Linked DNA regions of Homo sapiens. The protein of the gene in region 1 purifies or fractionates together with the protein of each later gene. This does not show direct contact. Each region holds a gene or a part of one and is shown on either strand. Other genes may lie near its edges.

Region 1 (4,093 bases):
TTACTCAGAGTGGCATGATCATAGCTCACTACAGCCTTGAGCTCCTGGGCTGGAGCAGTCTTCCAGCCTCAGCCTCCAGTAGCTGGGACTACAAATACACGCCATCAGGCCCAACTATTTTTTTTTTTTATTTTTTGTAGAGATAAGGTCTCACTACATTGCCCAGGCTCAGAAATTCTCATTTTTATTTTCATTGTGGAGTGGCCACTGAAGTGAGCCCCAGTTGCGAGGAAGGAAACTGACATTTCCATTAATGTGTCCCTCTGCTTCCTTGACACTCTCCAAGTGAGATTCCTGGGACCCCTATTGGTTAACAGTGCAACTTCCTGAACCCCCCTTCAGGCTTCTGTGACCAACTAAGAAATTTTACTGCTCCACTTTTGCCCAACTTTGCTCCCCAGAGATATGGATAGAGTGACTGTTGCCAGTCTCACATGATGTTAAGTTGATATTCAGGAATAAGGTAAAAGTCAAAATGTCAAAGTCCACAGTATAAGATAGAAAGGAAAGAATATTTCATTCCTAGTATCTACAGATTAAAAGGAAAGCCTAGATCTTCCACTATTAGAAGAGATGAATACCCCAGCAGTGTGGCTACTATTTGCTAATACACTAGAAAAACACTTTTCTCTCCCATTTCAGATAACGTAGAAGGAGGGACGGGTGAGAGCAATGTTAAGTGTTGGATTCCAGGCTACCCCAACAGCCACAAAGTAATTCTAGTCACAGTTTACCCCCAGCAGATTCACACAGTGAGAAATTCATAAGGCCCTATTTACACATTTCAATATTAAAGCCCCAAGAACCGGGGTCATTTGATGGTATTAATAACAGTCCTAAAGATTCTGACAGCAGTGACATTTCAGAGAAAGAAATGCCAGGGCACCCATGCATCAGCGAGATCGACATTTGATACTGCGCATTGTTGGCAATATTCAAGTGCTAATCATTCTGTTTTTGTTTTCCTTCTAACACATGCATTTTTTGAGATTGGTTTGCGTCTCTTAATCTTCAGAGCTACCTGATTTTGCTTATTACTAACTCCTTTATCATTACGAGGTCCACACCAGGGCTATTTAAATACTTGAAACGAGGAACAGTTAAACAGTCTGCTGAAACATTAGTCTAGGAGGAGATATAAGGTTACTTCCTTCAGTAACACACTCCGCTACATAGTCAGGTGAAGATTGTCTCTGTAGAGGCTTCTGGATGTGGTTGTAGGAAGCATGGACTGTGCAAGCTTGCGCTGAAGGAGGACGAGAGGATGGACCTACAACCTTGAAACAGAGTGTTTGGAAGAGCTGACCTTGGAGCAGAGCATTGCCGAGTATCTGAAAGATGTCAATGACCCTCGCTGCTGCTCGGAGACCTTGGGGATGACCTGCACCCACTAGCATGCCTGGATGGTTCAAAAAGGCGTGGTATGGGCTGGCGTCTTTACTCAGCTTCTCCTCCTTCATCCTGATCATCGTTGCCCTGGTAGTGCCCCACTGGCTGAGTGGGAAAATCCTTTGTCAGACTGGAGTGGATCTGGTCAACGCCACAGACAGAGAGCTGGTCAAGTTCATTGGGGACATTTACTACGGGCTCTTCCGAGGGTGTAAAGTGCGGCAGTGTGGGCTTGGGGGCCGCCAATCCCAATTCACGAGTGAGTATATTGGGAGCATGAAAGCTGATTCTAGGCACTCATTTTTGTTAATGTGTAAGAGTGCTTATGTCTCATTGTGGAATTTGGCTGCTGCCTCAACGTCAGGCATAATGTCAAAGTCCACAGTGAGCCAAGGGTTCTGGATCCACATCAAAAAGATCTTTCCTTCCTTCCTTGCTTCCTTTTCTTTTTCTGTAGAGATGTATAGAAACATTAGAAATAAGGATTTGTGCATTTTTGCAGTTTACCTCTATTAATTATGACTATTAAAATATTGAGAGTTTACACGTGTCAGACATTGTAAGCACCTCACGCCACTTGTCTCCTTAAAGCCTTACAACAAAGTTATACAGAAGGAATTGTTAATGTTCCCATTTTCCAGAGGAGTACACTGAGGCTTGGAGAGGTTACATAACTTACCTGAGGTCACCCAGCCAGGAAACAGTAGAGCCGGACTCCAGACCCATGCCACATGACCACAACAAGTGGGTGGAGGCTGCCTGCAGAACTGAACCTTTGGGAAGCATGATGACCCTTTCCACATCTACTTTTGTAAAAGCTTCATAGTCTGAGAAAATGCAAAGGGGCACTGTGCTTGGGTTCTGGAATCAGACTACCCTGGCTGAAACCCCTACTGGAAAGTTTACTGGTGGGGAGACCTCAAGCAAGGCACTTGCCTGTTCTCTGTGAACGTGAGCGGGCACCGACTTTGGCTGGCATTCAGTGTAGCATCAGAGCTGCCCAGGATGTAAGCAGAGCAGTCTGCACAAACAGGAATCCAAGCTGGACTTAGGAACGGGCTTCTGGAAAGGAAAAAACAAAACAGGCAATATTCTGCAAGCCTTTTGAATCGATGAGATCACTGGTGAAAAGTGTCTGCACAAAACCGTAATTAATCAATACCATGCCAATGTAGGGTGATACAGAATTGTATTCATTCCTTGATTTCTATATTTCAGTATTGTAGTAGTTTATAGAAATCTGGCCAAGGTAAATGTCGTATTAAATTTATAAGGACAAAAAGCTGGAACCGTTGACAAATATAATACAAATTGTCATCATTTAAACACACAAAAATTTACATTTGTTATGTATATTCAAGATCAATATGTCTGGGCATATTTATATTTACCTAGCAATTAGATTAGACCCTGGATATTGAACAAATAGCTCCATCAAAATTATAACATAAAACTTGAAAACACACACACATAAACAAATAAAAAAAAGAAATGCTAAAAGCTAACCATGACAACTACATGGACTACTCGATTCTGAACTAGATGCTTTGCTATAAAGGATGTCTTCGGGACTTTAGGGGTCAAGAAAACTTCCCCTTTGCACTCTGAAGGTTCTCTAAACAATCTACTGACAAAAGGCAGATTAATAGGGAAAATGGCTTACACATTTATTAGCATGCATAGGGGAAAAATCACAGAGTGATTGTCCGCTATCTCAATGGGGTACAGGTGGTTGTATCCTCTTCATCTTAGGGGAAAGAGAGATGGGGAAGTGTGGATGATTTTAGGGGACTAGTAAATTATTTTTAGGGAAATTCAATGGGCTTAAAGAACATACAGTGAGCTGGGACAAAGTCTGTTGAGCCCACAGAGCAGACATTGGTTTGTGACAAAAGTCTGTCCAGCTGTGTTAACAGACTTTAGTCTTTCTTCCTGTGATATGGGTACAATTAATGAACACTCAGGGAAGGGACCAGAGGTCTTTTTCTTTGGTAGGTCTGGATGTAGGCAGGTAAGGGAATGTCAGAGAACAACCTCATCCTGTGCTTATGAGACAGACAAAGAATGGAGAGACACGAGGGAGAGGGGAGGCCAGAGAGACCTTGAGACTTCTTCACAAAGCTTCATATTTTAGGGGTGTTGGTTTCTGAACCCCAACAGGTAAATCGTTGAAACTTGAATGGGGTGAGAAGATTAAACAGCAGTCACATGCCAGCATTAACCTAATGACCAGACCCCTGCCATTCCCAGCTCACAGAAATGTAAACTGCTTCGAGTAGGAAGCTGCAAACAAATGCATATTTTGTTTGAGCCTTGGAGGAACTCAGTAAGTACTTCTTGCCTTCCTCCTTCTTCCTTCTTAGAAGGACACCAATGGGAAACATTCCCCTGGGTTCATCTAACGTGGTCTGGTCTGGAAAGCATCAGAACCCTGTGAGAAGCATAAAGGACATTTTATTCTTGTCCCTGAGTAGGAGCGTATTTGAGAAGGTTTTGTTTCCTGCTGCCCTGGGGTTGTCTCAGAGGAGGGTCTGTAAACATCCATTCGCAGTACCTTGGATGTGATTCTCTTTCAAAGCATTCACGAGGAGCCTGGGGCCAGGTTCCTCCTGTGCTTGGCTGGCTTTACCCCAGTACAGCTCAGGGACACTGATAGTGCCAGTCTAGTCTCCTTTAGATTTACAGCTTTTAATTCTAGCACAGT
Region 2 (3,500 bases), on another chromosome or scaffold:
AAACTGTGGTACACCCAGACAACGAAATATTATTCAGCGTTAAAAAGAAATGAGCTATTAAGCCATGAAAAGCCATAGAGGAGACGTAAATGCATATTACTAAGTGAAAGAAGCCTATTTGAAAAGGCTACCTAAAATACTACGTGATTCCAACTAGATGACATTTTAGAAAAAGGCAAAACTATGGAGACAATAAAGACCAGTGGCTTTTGGGGGCTCAGTGGGGACAGAAGGATAAATAAGCAGAGCACAGATTTTTAAGGCAGTGAAACTACACTCTATACAATAATGATGGATACATGTCATTATGCATTTATCCAAACACACTGAATGTACAACACAAAGAATGAACTCTAATGTAAAACTATGGACTTTGGGTGATAATACGTCAGTGTAAGTTCATTAACTGTAAAACATGTACCATTATGTGGGGGATGTTAAATATAGGGGAGGGGGCTGGGCACGGTGGCTCACGCCTGTAATCCCAGCACTTTGGGAGGCCAAGGCAGGCAGATCACGAGGTCAGGAGATCGAGACCATCCTGGCTAACACAGTGAAGCCCCGTCTCTGCTAAAAACACAAAAAATTAGCCAGGAGTGGTGGCGGGCACCTGTAGTCCCAGCTACTTGGGAGGCTGAGGCAGGAGAATGGCATGAACCTGGGAGGCAAAGCTTGCAGTGAGCTGAGATCGCACCACTGCACTACAGCCTGGGTGACAGAGTGAGACTCTGTCTCAAAAAAAAAAAAAAAGAAAAGAAAAGAAAGAAAAAAGAAAAAAAAATGAAAATAGGGGAGGGGCCAGGCACAGTGGTTAATTCCTATAATTCCAGCACTTTGGGAGGCCAAGGCAGGAGGATCACTTGAGCCCAAGAATTCAAGACCAGCCTGGGCAATGCAGTGGGACCACTGTCTCTTAAAAAAATATTTAAATTAGCTGGACTTGGTGGGATGTGCCTGTAGCTACTCAGGAGGCTGAAGCAGTAGGATCACTTGAGTATGGGAGGTAGAGGCTGCAGTGAGCCATGATTGTGTCACTGAACTCCAGCCTGGGTGACAGAGGGAGATCCTGTATCAAGAAGAGAAAAGAAAAGAAGAAAAGGGGAAAAAAAAGAAAAGAAAAGGAGGGAGGCTATTCATGTGTCAGGACAAGGGGTATATGGGAAATCTCTCTGCATTCCTCTCAATTTTGCTGTGAACTTAAAATGGCTCTAAAAACTTTTAAATCTTTAACTTAAAAAAAAAATCTGAGGCACTGAGAAGACTACAGTGAAGAAACACTTTTACTGTATGGTCCAGTTTGAAAGAAATGTGGTAAGGATGCAATCTGCCTGAGAATTCACCATTTCTTTGAGCTTCTAACAAAGGTTCAAAAGCAACTAATGGTAATATCAAGTGGCTCTCTGTACACATACCAGTCTCAGAAAGCTAATCATAGTTCTGGAGATTAAATTTCAGGCAAAGGCAAAAGCTAATCTCTGAACAGCAGGTCTAATAAAGTTAATGAGAACTATACAAACTACAGATCTTCTCCCTCTATTGTCTTTGGAGGATAGAGAACAACCATAGGCTCTAATTATCCTTAGATTTAAAATAATCCTGGAGACTGAAAATGGGCAAAAAGCCCATTTTTACTACAGTATTTGGCAACATTACTACTATTACCAATTAATCTGTATCAGTAACCCTGTCTGGCACTAAATCTCACAAAATATCCACATTAACTCATAAGGAACCAAACCATCCACAGCAGTCATGTTTGAAAAATTGTACTAATACGAGCCAAAGTGCCAGGTATCAGAAATGTTAAACAAGTGCAAACACCCTAGCTAGAACATGCCATCTACCCATTCACTCATAACAACCCTACTGAACACATACTGAAATTGCTAGGGCAGTCATTTTCAAGAGGATACTTCTAAAACTTTAAGCCCCTTACAAGCAAAACGGCTTGAAAACCTTCAAAGGACCCAAGTACATGGGACTTCAAATTCCATTAGAACTGCACCAACTTTTCATATGCAACAGAACACATAGGCAGAATGATTGGAATGGAAAATGTGTATAATCTAAGTACAGAGAATTATGCTGAATTGTCTTGACTTTCATTCTTTCAGGACTTAACGATGGTGAGAAGGAAGAAGGTATTTTAAACCAAAACCAACAAATTATAGGGTTGCTGTGTTATCAGCTTCACTCAGACTATGAGTAAACCCTAAACAAAGTAGATCTTAGTTTGTAGAAAACACACTGCTAAAAAAAGACAAATGCAGGTGTCATTCTGGGTTATCACACCCAAGCAGGCCACAAGTAGTATGCACCATAATGGCACGTGGAAGAAAATACTGCCTAAAAATGGTTTAAGCAGTTAATACATCCACAGTTTCTGATCTCAGAGGCAGGATTCTACTCTGTTCAATGTGCTGCATCATTTAGCCAGTCCAGGAAGTGTTATTTCCCAAGTAATGTTTCAACAAAATATCTGGAAAACATGGAACTGTAAATTAGCTTGCTTGCTCTGGGCAAGATGCCTTGCCATGAGAAGCTTGTTGCTCAGGTAAACGTCTGTTGGCCCTTCCAGGCAGGTCACAAGTCCTTCTAGCCCACAGAGAGGCTGCACAGACTAACAGTGTGCCTGCCCAGCTCCCCTGGAAGAAGTGCTCCCTGCACCAAAAAGCTGACCTTGGTGGAATCTGCAGCAAAAGGCAGAGAGAAGAAGGACGACTTTCATGAGATAAACTCGGTTCATTTATTTTTCAACTGTTTTATGGAGATATACTAATAATTCACATATCCTACAATTTATTCATTTAAAGCATAACGTTCAGTAGGTTTTAGTATATTCACATACTTGGGCAACCATCACCACTATCAATTTTAGAACATTTCTGTCCCCCTCAAGAACACTTCATATCCATCAGTAGTTACTCCCCATTTCCCCCCAGGCAACCACTAATCTATCTTTTTGTCTTTATAGATTTGCCCATTCTGGACATCTCATATGAATGAAATAATACGTGATCTTTTGTGACTAGTTTCATATATTTAATGTTTTTAAGGTTCATCCATGTTACAGTGTGTATCAGAACTTCATTTCACTTTATTGCTGAATAATATTCTGTTGTATGCATATACCACACAAGTTCTTTTCTTCACAGGCAGTAGAATCTCTTCTGCTATATAAGCAAAGCTATAAACAGTGAATAGGTGCCTGCATTAGCTCATGAATGTCTATTATGGCTGAAAATATATCATTAATTGTGTAATGCCACAGTTTTCCAAAAGCGTTACCAAATGCCACAGTGATATCTGGATTAATAAAAATACTGAGAATGAAGTTCCTTTACAAGTAAGCTGACTGCTTAAAAGTTTTCTCCTGTACACTGCAGAAAAAAGGGAACTCACAGCTCCTAAGGCCTGAACACCTCAGGACATAACTGGTCTTTGACCCCATCCAGTTAAAGACAAACAGCATAACTGCAAGTATACAAAGCTGGTCTCTG
Region 3 (3,500 bases), on another chromosome or scaffold:
TCCTCAGGGGTTTCTCTTCAGGAAGGTCATACTTGCAAAGCCAGCAGCCACAAAGACCTATTTAGGTTGGTGCAAAAGCAGTTGTGGTTTTTGCCTGAAAGGAATGGCAAAAACCGCAATTATTTTTGCACCAAGATAATACTTGGCACTGTGGTCAGTAAGACACTAATTTTTCCCACCTGGGGTGGCCCCGCAGATTTGCTAAATTCTTCCCCGCTAGAATGCCAGCTTGGATGAGCAGGGGCTCTATTGTATTCAACCTGGCAGCCCCAAGACCCAGAGTAATTCCTGGCTCATAATAGGTACTGGCTAAGCAGATGCTGAATTGCTGAAAGTCAACAGGTCTTGACGTGTGTGTCAAACAGGAACAATGTACAAAATAAAGCAGAGTTCGGTGGCCTTCTGGCTCTGGCCTGTGCAGCCCTAGTCCTTCTTTCCCCACATCACTTAAGAGCAGGTGGTCCTGAGTGGTTGCTGGACCTGATTCTGGAGGCCAAGACTCTGAGCCTTGAAGATTTACCTCCGGGGATTCAGAAAAGAGGAGAAAAGGAGTAATTGTATTGAACAGAGAATTAGAAGATAAGGAAAATCCCTTTGTGAGAAACTCTAAATCTTGAGCATGGATCTCTGTGTCCAGGTCCTGATGGGGAGAATAGCTGGTCCAAGAAGTACCCGTCGTGTGGGGGCCTGCTGCAGTCCCCCATAGACCTGCACAGTGACATCCTCCAGTATGACGCCAGCCTCACGCCCCTCGAGTTCCAAGGCTACAATCTGTCTGCCAACAAGCAGTTTCTCCTGACCAACAATGGCCATTCAGGTGAGGGAGAGGCCTTGGAGACCTGAGGGGTATGTCTGAGTCTCCCTCAGCTGCCAGGCCTGTCCTTTTCCATCTGGCAGGGAGGTGTTCCGTGGAAGCATCCAGGAGGAGGGGTGGGGCGGGGCGGGGGTGTCTTTGAGAGATTCCAGGAGCACTCTCTCCAGGGGATGCTGGAGGCTCTGGGCTCTGAGGATCCTGCCAGGGCCGCACTTCCCAGAAGAAGCACATCTCTCAGGATGGGGCAGGAGACCGGCCTGAGCACTGTAGTTCATTGGCTGTGCAGCTGGAGTGAATTCTGGACCATAAACGATTCAAGGAACCACACAGTTTGGCGGGGGGTGCCCAGGCTTTGGAGTCAGACCAACCTGGATTTGAACTCTGGCTTGACTGCTTACGAGCCATGAGAATCTAGGTGAGAATTTTAGTCTCCTTGAGCTTCCATCTGGAAATGGACATATTGATGGATACCGTGAAGACTGGAGATTATGTACGTTGGGGTCTGGCATACAGAGTGAAGTAAATGCTTCATAAATAGCAGTTATCGTTGCTGTTGCTATATAATTCTAAAGCTTGGAAGGTACTTCACTAAAGGTGTCTGATCCATCAATATGTAAATAAACACCCATCCGTTGGTCTAGTGTTAGCGTTTCTGGCATCACTTTCCAAGGTGAACCAAGAAGGTGCTGGTGCCACTGGAGTTGCTTTGGGGAAAAGGGAACATTCTCAGGGAAAGAGCCCAGGTGTCTGACCTTTAGGCTGCATCTCTGCTCCGCACCTCACTCCATCCACCTGCCTCTCTCTGGGCTCCAGGGGGTGGCAGCAGGGGTGGAGGGAGCATTGCCTACCTGACTGCTCTCTGGCAGTGCACAGCTGGCCGGGGCTCTGAAGGCTGCTCCTCCACTCCCCGCAGTGAAGCTGAACCTGCCCTCGGACATGCACATCCAGGGCCTCCAGTCTCGCTACAGTGCCACGCAGCTGCACCTGCACTGGGGGAACCCGAATGACCCGCACGGCTCTGAGCACACCGTCAGCGGACAGCACTTCGCCGCCGAGGTAAGTAGGGCTGCCAGTCTGGCAGAGGCTGCTCTGCAGTGGGTGGTGTGGCACCTTCTCGACCTGGCTGCTGTGCAGATAACACCAGAGCATGGGACAGGCTGCCTTCAGGCTCTCTGCCCCACCTCTGGCCCTGGCACAAGGGGCGCAGCCACTCCACTAGCCTGTAGCTCATCTGCACTGTCCTGGTCCCTTTCTTCTCCTGAACATGCTAAGTTTGTCCCTGTGTCTTTTACTGAGTGATGCTGCTGGGGAGGCAGTATTCCCAGGGTGGCCCAGTGGGACATACATGCCCTTCTTTTAGACATTGCCTTCCTATCTGTGCAGATAAAAATCTCCTGCTGACTCACACTGGGCTCACTGCTCCCCCAAACTTCTCAGCCTTTCTTCATATGTCATGCTGTTTGCATCATTTTGATGCTATCTTTCCCTCTCTGGGCATGGGTTGTGTTTAGAACATGGGGACATGGGTCTAGGGCCACCCTTCTACCTGGCCACAAGTCTAGGGGTACCTGGCAGTCTAATGTGCAGGGCATCACGGCAAGCAGACTCACTAGGGACAAGATGTCAGCCAGCACAGCATCGTGTCATGTTGCCTTGAGAAGCTACTCCGAAATGCCAAAAGAAAATTAGAAGACGGGCAGAGCATTTGTCCTATGCAATTGCAGGATGGGGTGGGGCAAGGAGGGGGTTGAGATGCTCCATTTTGGCACTCCAATAGCCCTGAACTGGGGGTGTGGCTCTGAATATTTACAGGGAAATACAAGCAGATAAATGCTGCTGACTGATCAGCCAGGGGAGTCCGTGGTAAATAGAGACCATTCCCCTCCAGTCATAACTGCTGAACTGCTTAATGTTTCAGACTAATCATAGGTCTACTTGCAAGCATGGAAGGGATAGGATCTGGTTCAATAGGATGGTACCACTGGAGGTTCACATATTTCAGAGCGGCCCTTCCCTGAAGCTCAAGAACTGAAATTTCCTCCAGGCTAATTGCAGTGTTGAGACTTCTGCTTCCCCCATGGGGAATAAAGAAGGTGTAAACCAAAAAGTGTCTGAGACTCAATCCATTTAGAAGTTTATTTTGCCAAGGTTAAGGACACATGCCCGGGAGACAGGGAGACAAGTCTGTGCCTTTCTACAAAGATGATTTTGAGGGCTTCAATATTTAAAGGGGAAAGGGCAGACACTGGGGAAAGAGGGAGAAATGTTTAAAAGGTGTGGGGAGGTAAGAGGCAAGAGGTCGCATTCTTCTGAGTTTTTGATCAGCCGTTCACATGTGAGAGAGGGGTAGAGGAATAGTCACTTGTGCATTCATCTAGCTCAGCGAATCTGCATTCTTACAAAATAAAACAGACATGGGCAGAGGAAGCAATTAGAAATGCATTTGTCTCAGGTGAGCAGAGGGATGACTTTGAGTTCTATCCTTTGTCCTGAACCCATGAAGATAAGTTATCCATTTACATTGTCACGGTGAAATTCAACAGAACTGTTTTAGGGTAAAGACCTTGCGGCCCACAGTGAATTTCCTAGTGGGCAAAATGTGAGGTGTGTTGCTTTTTTATCTTTGTAGCCGTCTTATTTAGGAATAGAATGGGAGGCAGCTCCCAGCTTGACTTTTCTCTTTGGC
Region 4 (3,500 bases), on another chromosome or scaffold:
ATAAGAAAAGATGGCATCAGCCAGGTACAGTGGCTCACACCTGTAATCCTAGCACTTTGGGAGGCAGAGGTGGGCAGATCACCCGAGGTCAGGAGTTCAAGACCGAAAAGATGGCATCCATGAAACAAGAACAGGACACTGTAAAAAAGGAACATTTGAAAGGTCAAAACAGTTCTAAAAATTAGAAACAAGGCAGCAAAAATGTAAATGAAGAAGAAAAAGGCCCACAGGGCATATTATTAAATTTCGGAACACTGAGAACAAAGAAGACACTGAAATTTTCCAGAGAAGAAATAAAAATGAATGACATACAAAGAACTGGGAATCAGAGTGGCTCAGACTTTTTTTTTTTTTTTTTTTTGGAGACCTAGTCTCACTCTGTCACCCAGGCTGGAGTGCAAGTGGCACAATCTTGGCTCTGCCACCTCCACCTCCTGGGTTCAAGCAATTCTAGTACCTCAGCCTCCCGAGTAGCTGGGACTACAGTTGTGTGCCACCATGCCTAGCTAAATTTTTGTGTGTGTGTATTTTTAGTAGAGATAGGGTATCACCATGTTGCGTAGGCTGATCTCGAACTCCTGACCTCAAGTGATCCATCTGCCTTGGCCTCCCAATGTGCTGGGATTACAGGCATGAGCCACTGTGCCCCACCTTGGCTCAGACTTCTTAATGGCAAGACTAAGAGCTGACAGTCACGGAGAATTCTGGGGAAAAGCGATTTTCTACCTAGAATTCTATACCCAGATGTGATATTATGATATCTATGTCTCTATCTCCATATCTCTATCTAAAATAATGTTTTTGGCTGGGCATGGTGGCTAACACTTGTAATCCCAGAACTTTGGGAGGCTGAGGCAGGTGGATCATTTGAGGTCAGGAGTTTGAGACCAGCCTGGCCAACATGGTGAAACCCCATCTTTACTAAAAATACAAAAAAATTAGCTGGGCATGTTGGCACACGCCTGTAATTCCAACTACTTGGGAGGCTGAGGCAGGAGAATTGCTTGAATCCAGGAGGTGGAGGTTGCAGTGAGCTGAGATCGCCCCACTGCACTCCAGCCTGGGCGACAGAGTGAAACTTTGTCTCAAAAAAATAAATAAATAAAACAAAATAAAATAAAATAAATGTCTTGTCCACAGTTCCTGGCTTATAACTCCCATAGCCCTTGACACAGGATTTGTTATAATGCTGTGGTGCTCCAGGCCTCAGATGCAGGCCCAGACCTAGGAAATAGAATCTCTCTCTCTGACCTTCTGCCCAAGGCAGGACTCTAATCTGCTGTGGGTCATAAGACCCTATTCTAGGGAGGGTCCTGGCCCATCTCTGAAGGAAGGAATGCTGCAGAGACAGGCCAAGAAGAATTGGAGCAGACAGGCCTCGCTGGGTTTCCTGCCTAGTCTATTAGTATGAGATCAAATCCTTTCTGCCCAATCAAATCTTGACACAGTTGTCCCTGCTTTAGTCATGCCTGTCCAACGAAGTCTCCACAAAAGGCCCAACAGGACAGGGTTTGGGGGCTTCCGGATAGGCTGAACACATAGAGGCTAACAGGAAGGTGAGTGAGAACTTGTCCCAGGCTGGGCGCGGTGGCTCACGCCTGTAATCTCAGCACTTTAGGAGGCCGAGGCAGGCGGATCACGAGGTCAGGAGATCGAGACCATCCTGGCTAACATGGTGAAACCCCGTCTCTACTAAAAATACAAAAAATTAGCCAGGCGTGGTGGCGGGCGCCTGTAGTCCCAGCTACTTGGGAGGCTGAGGCAGGAGAATGGCGTGAAACTGGGAGGTGGAGGTTGCAGTGAGACGAGATTGCACCTCTGCACTCCAGCCTGGGTGACAGCGCAAGACTCTATCTCAAAAAAAAAAAAAAGAACTCGTCCCCGTGCTGGGGGGGTGGCGGCACACCCCACCCAGCTCTATAAGGACAGAATCTCCTGTGCTTGGGACTCTTCCAGATCTCACCCTGTGCATCTCCTTTGGCTGTGTGTTTGTATCATTTAAAATACCCTTTGTAACAAACCAGTAAATGTGTTTCCCTAAGTTTTGTGAGCTGCTCTAGCAAATTAATCAAACCCAAAGAGGGAACGTGGGAGTCCAAACTTGAAGCCAGCCACTCAGAAGTTCCAGAGGCCTGGACTTGCGACGGGCGTCTGAAGCTGGGCAGCCTTAGGGACTGAACCCTCAAACTGTGGGATCTGAAGCTATCTCCGGGAAAACAGCATCAGAATTGAATTAAATTACAGGACACCCAGCTGGTGCCCACTGCTTCGTGGGTAAGAGAAAAAAAAAAAACACATTTGGTCACAGACGCTTTCTGGGTTGATTGTTGTTGTGTAAGAGCAGAGGAAAGACAGTTTGAGTGTTTTTCCTACACACCAGCCAAGTGATTGTTAGCTTGGAGGTTAGAATAAAAGTTCTTTAAGCACGAAAGGTCTCAAGAAATTGAGGCCAGGCACGGTGGCTCATGTCTGTAATCCCAGCACTTAGGGAGGCTGAGGCAGGCGGATCGCCTGAGTCCAGGAGTTTGAGACAAGCCTGGGCAAGGTGGCAAAACTCTGACTCCACTGAGGAGACTGAGGTGAAACCAACGAAAAGACATGCGACCTAGGAAACAGGGAATCCCACGGAGGAGGGAGGCAAAAGGCATACTGAGGATGCAGGTAAATAGAAATTCCAGAACAGCTGTGCAGCAGGCCTGGTGAGCAACAGGTCCAGACTGGAACAGAGAAGAGAGGATTCCAGAAGGCTCTCTGGCCCGGTGTCACTATCTTTTTTTTTTTTCCTTGAGACAGAGTCTCACTCTGTTACCCAGGCTGGAGAGCAGTGGCGCGATCTTGGCTCACTGCATCCTGTCTTCTGGGTTCAAGCGATTCCCATGCCTCAGCCTCCCAAGTAGTGGGGACTACAGGTGCATGCCACCATGCCTGGCTAATTTTTGTATTTTTAGTAGAGACGGGGTTTCACCAGGTTGGCCAGGCTGGTCTTGAACTCCCGACTGCAGGTGATCCTCCTGCCTCCTCAGGCTCCCAAAGTGCTGGGATTACAGGTGTGATCCACTGCACCCGGCCTCACTATCTTTTCTTGAATGTTTTTGGAAAGGCACATGCTGCCTTGCTCACCTTGACCTTCAGGTCACACCCTCCTGTCATTTACTCTCGTAGCACTGTGCACCGTCCCTTCACAGCACAGATCAGTGTGGTCATTAAACATCTATTTCTGTGATTTCCTGATTGACGTCTGCCTCACTCACTGCTGTCTTAGCTTTGTCAAGGTGGGGGCTGTGCTATTCTGGCTCATTATTGAATCCCCCTTGCCAAACACGGAGTAAGTGCTTAATACACACTCATTAAAGCACTGACGGAAGGAGTGCTGCGTTTTCATACATACCAGAACAGCGAATATAAATTCCTGGCACCTGCCCCCAGGTAAAATTAAGCCAAGGATTGCTGGGAATGTAAAATTGCACAGCCCCTATGGAAAACAGTATGGCAATTCCTCA

What was found. The genes of interacting proteins can lie anywhere in the genome.
Region 2: the proteins of CLRN2 (region 1) and DIPK1A purify together in Homo sapiens (affinity purification with mass spectrometry; one large-scale study listed by BioGRID and IntAct). This does not show direct contact.
Region 3: the proteins of CLRN2 (region 1) and CA12 purify together in Homo sapiens (affinity purification with mass spectrometry; one large-scale study listed by BioGRID and IntAct). This does not show direct contact.
Region 4: the proteins of CLRN2 (region 1) and KLRG2 purify together in Homo sapiens (affinity purification with mass spectrometry; one large-scale study listed by BioGRID and IntAct). This does not show direct contact.

What each region holds. Positions count from the first base shown.
Region 1 is NC_000004.12:17,513,872-17,517,964, forward strand, and holds the start of CLRN2 (clarin-2), read left to right. Parts: upstream 1-1,293; 5' UTR 1,294-1,395; coding exon 1,396-1,648; intron 1,649-4,093. UniProt on the Homo sapiens protein: Plays a key role to hearing function. Required for normal organization and maintenance of the stereocilia bundle and for mechano-electrical transduction.
Region 2 is NC_000001.11:92,954,963-92,958,462, forward strand, and holds part of DIPK1A (divergent protein kinase domain 1A), read right to left. Parts: intron 1-3,500.
Region 3 is NC_000015.10:63,343,847-63,347,346, reverse strand, and holds part of CA12 (carbonic anhydrase 12 isoform 1 precursor), read left to right. Parts: intron 1-637; coding exon 638-817; intron 818-1,680; exon of another isoform or gene 1,681-1,727; coding exon 1,728-1,870; intron 1,871-2,936; exon of another isoform or gene 2,937-3,209; intron 3,210-3,500. UniProt on the Homo sapiens protein: Reversible hydration of carbon dioxide.
Region 4 is NC_000007.14:139,473,674-139,477,173, forward strand, and holds part of KLRG2 (killer cell lectin-like receptor subfamily G member 2), read right to left. Parts: intron 139-3,500; coding exon of another isoform or gene 97-138; exon of another isoform or gene 1-96.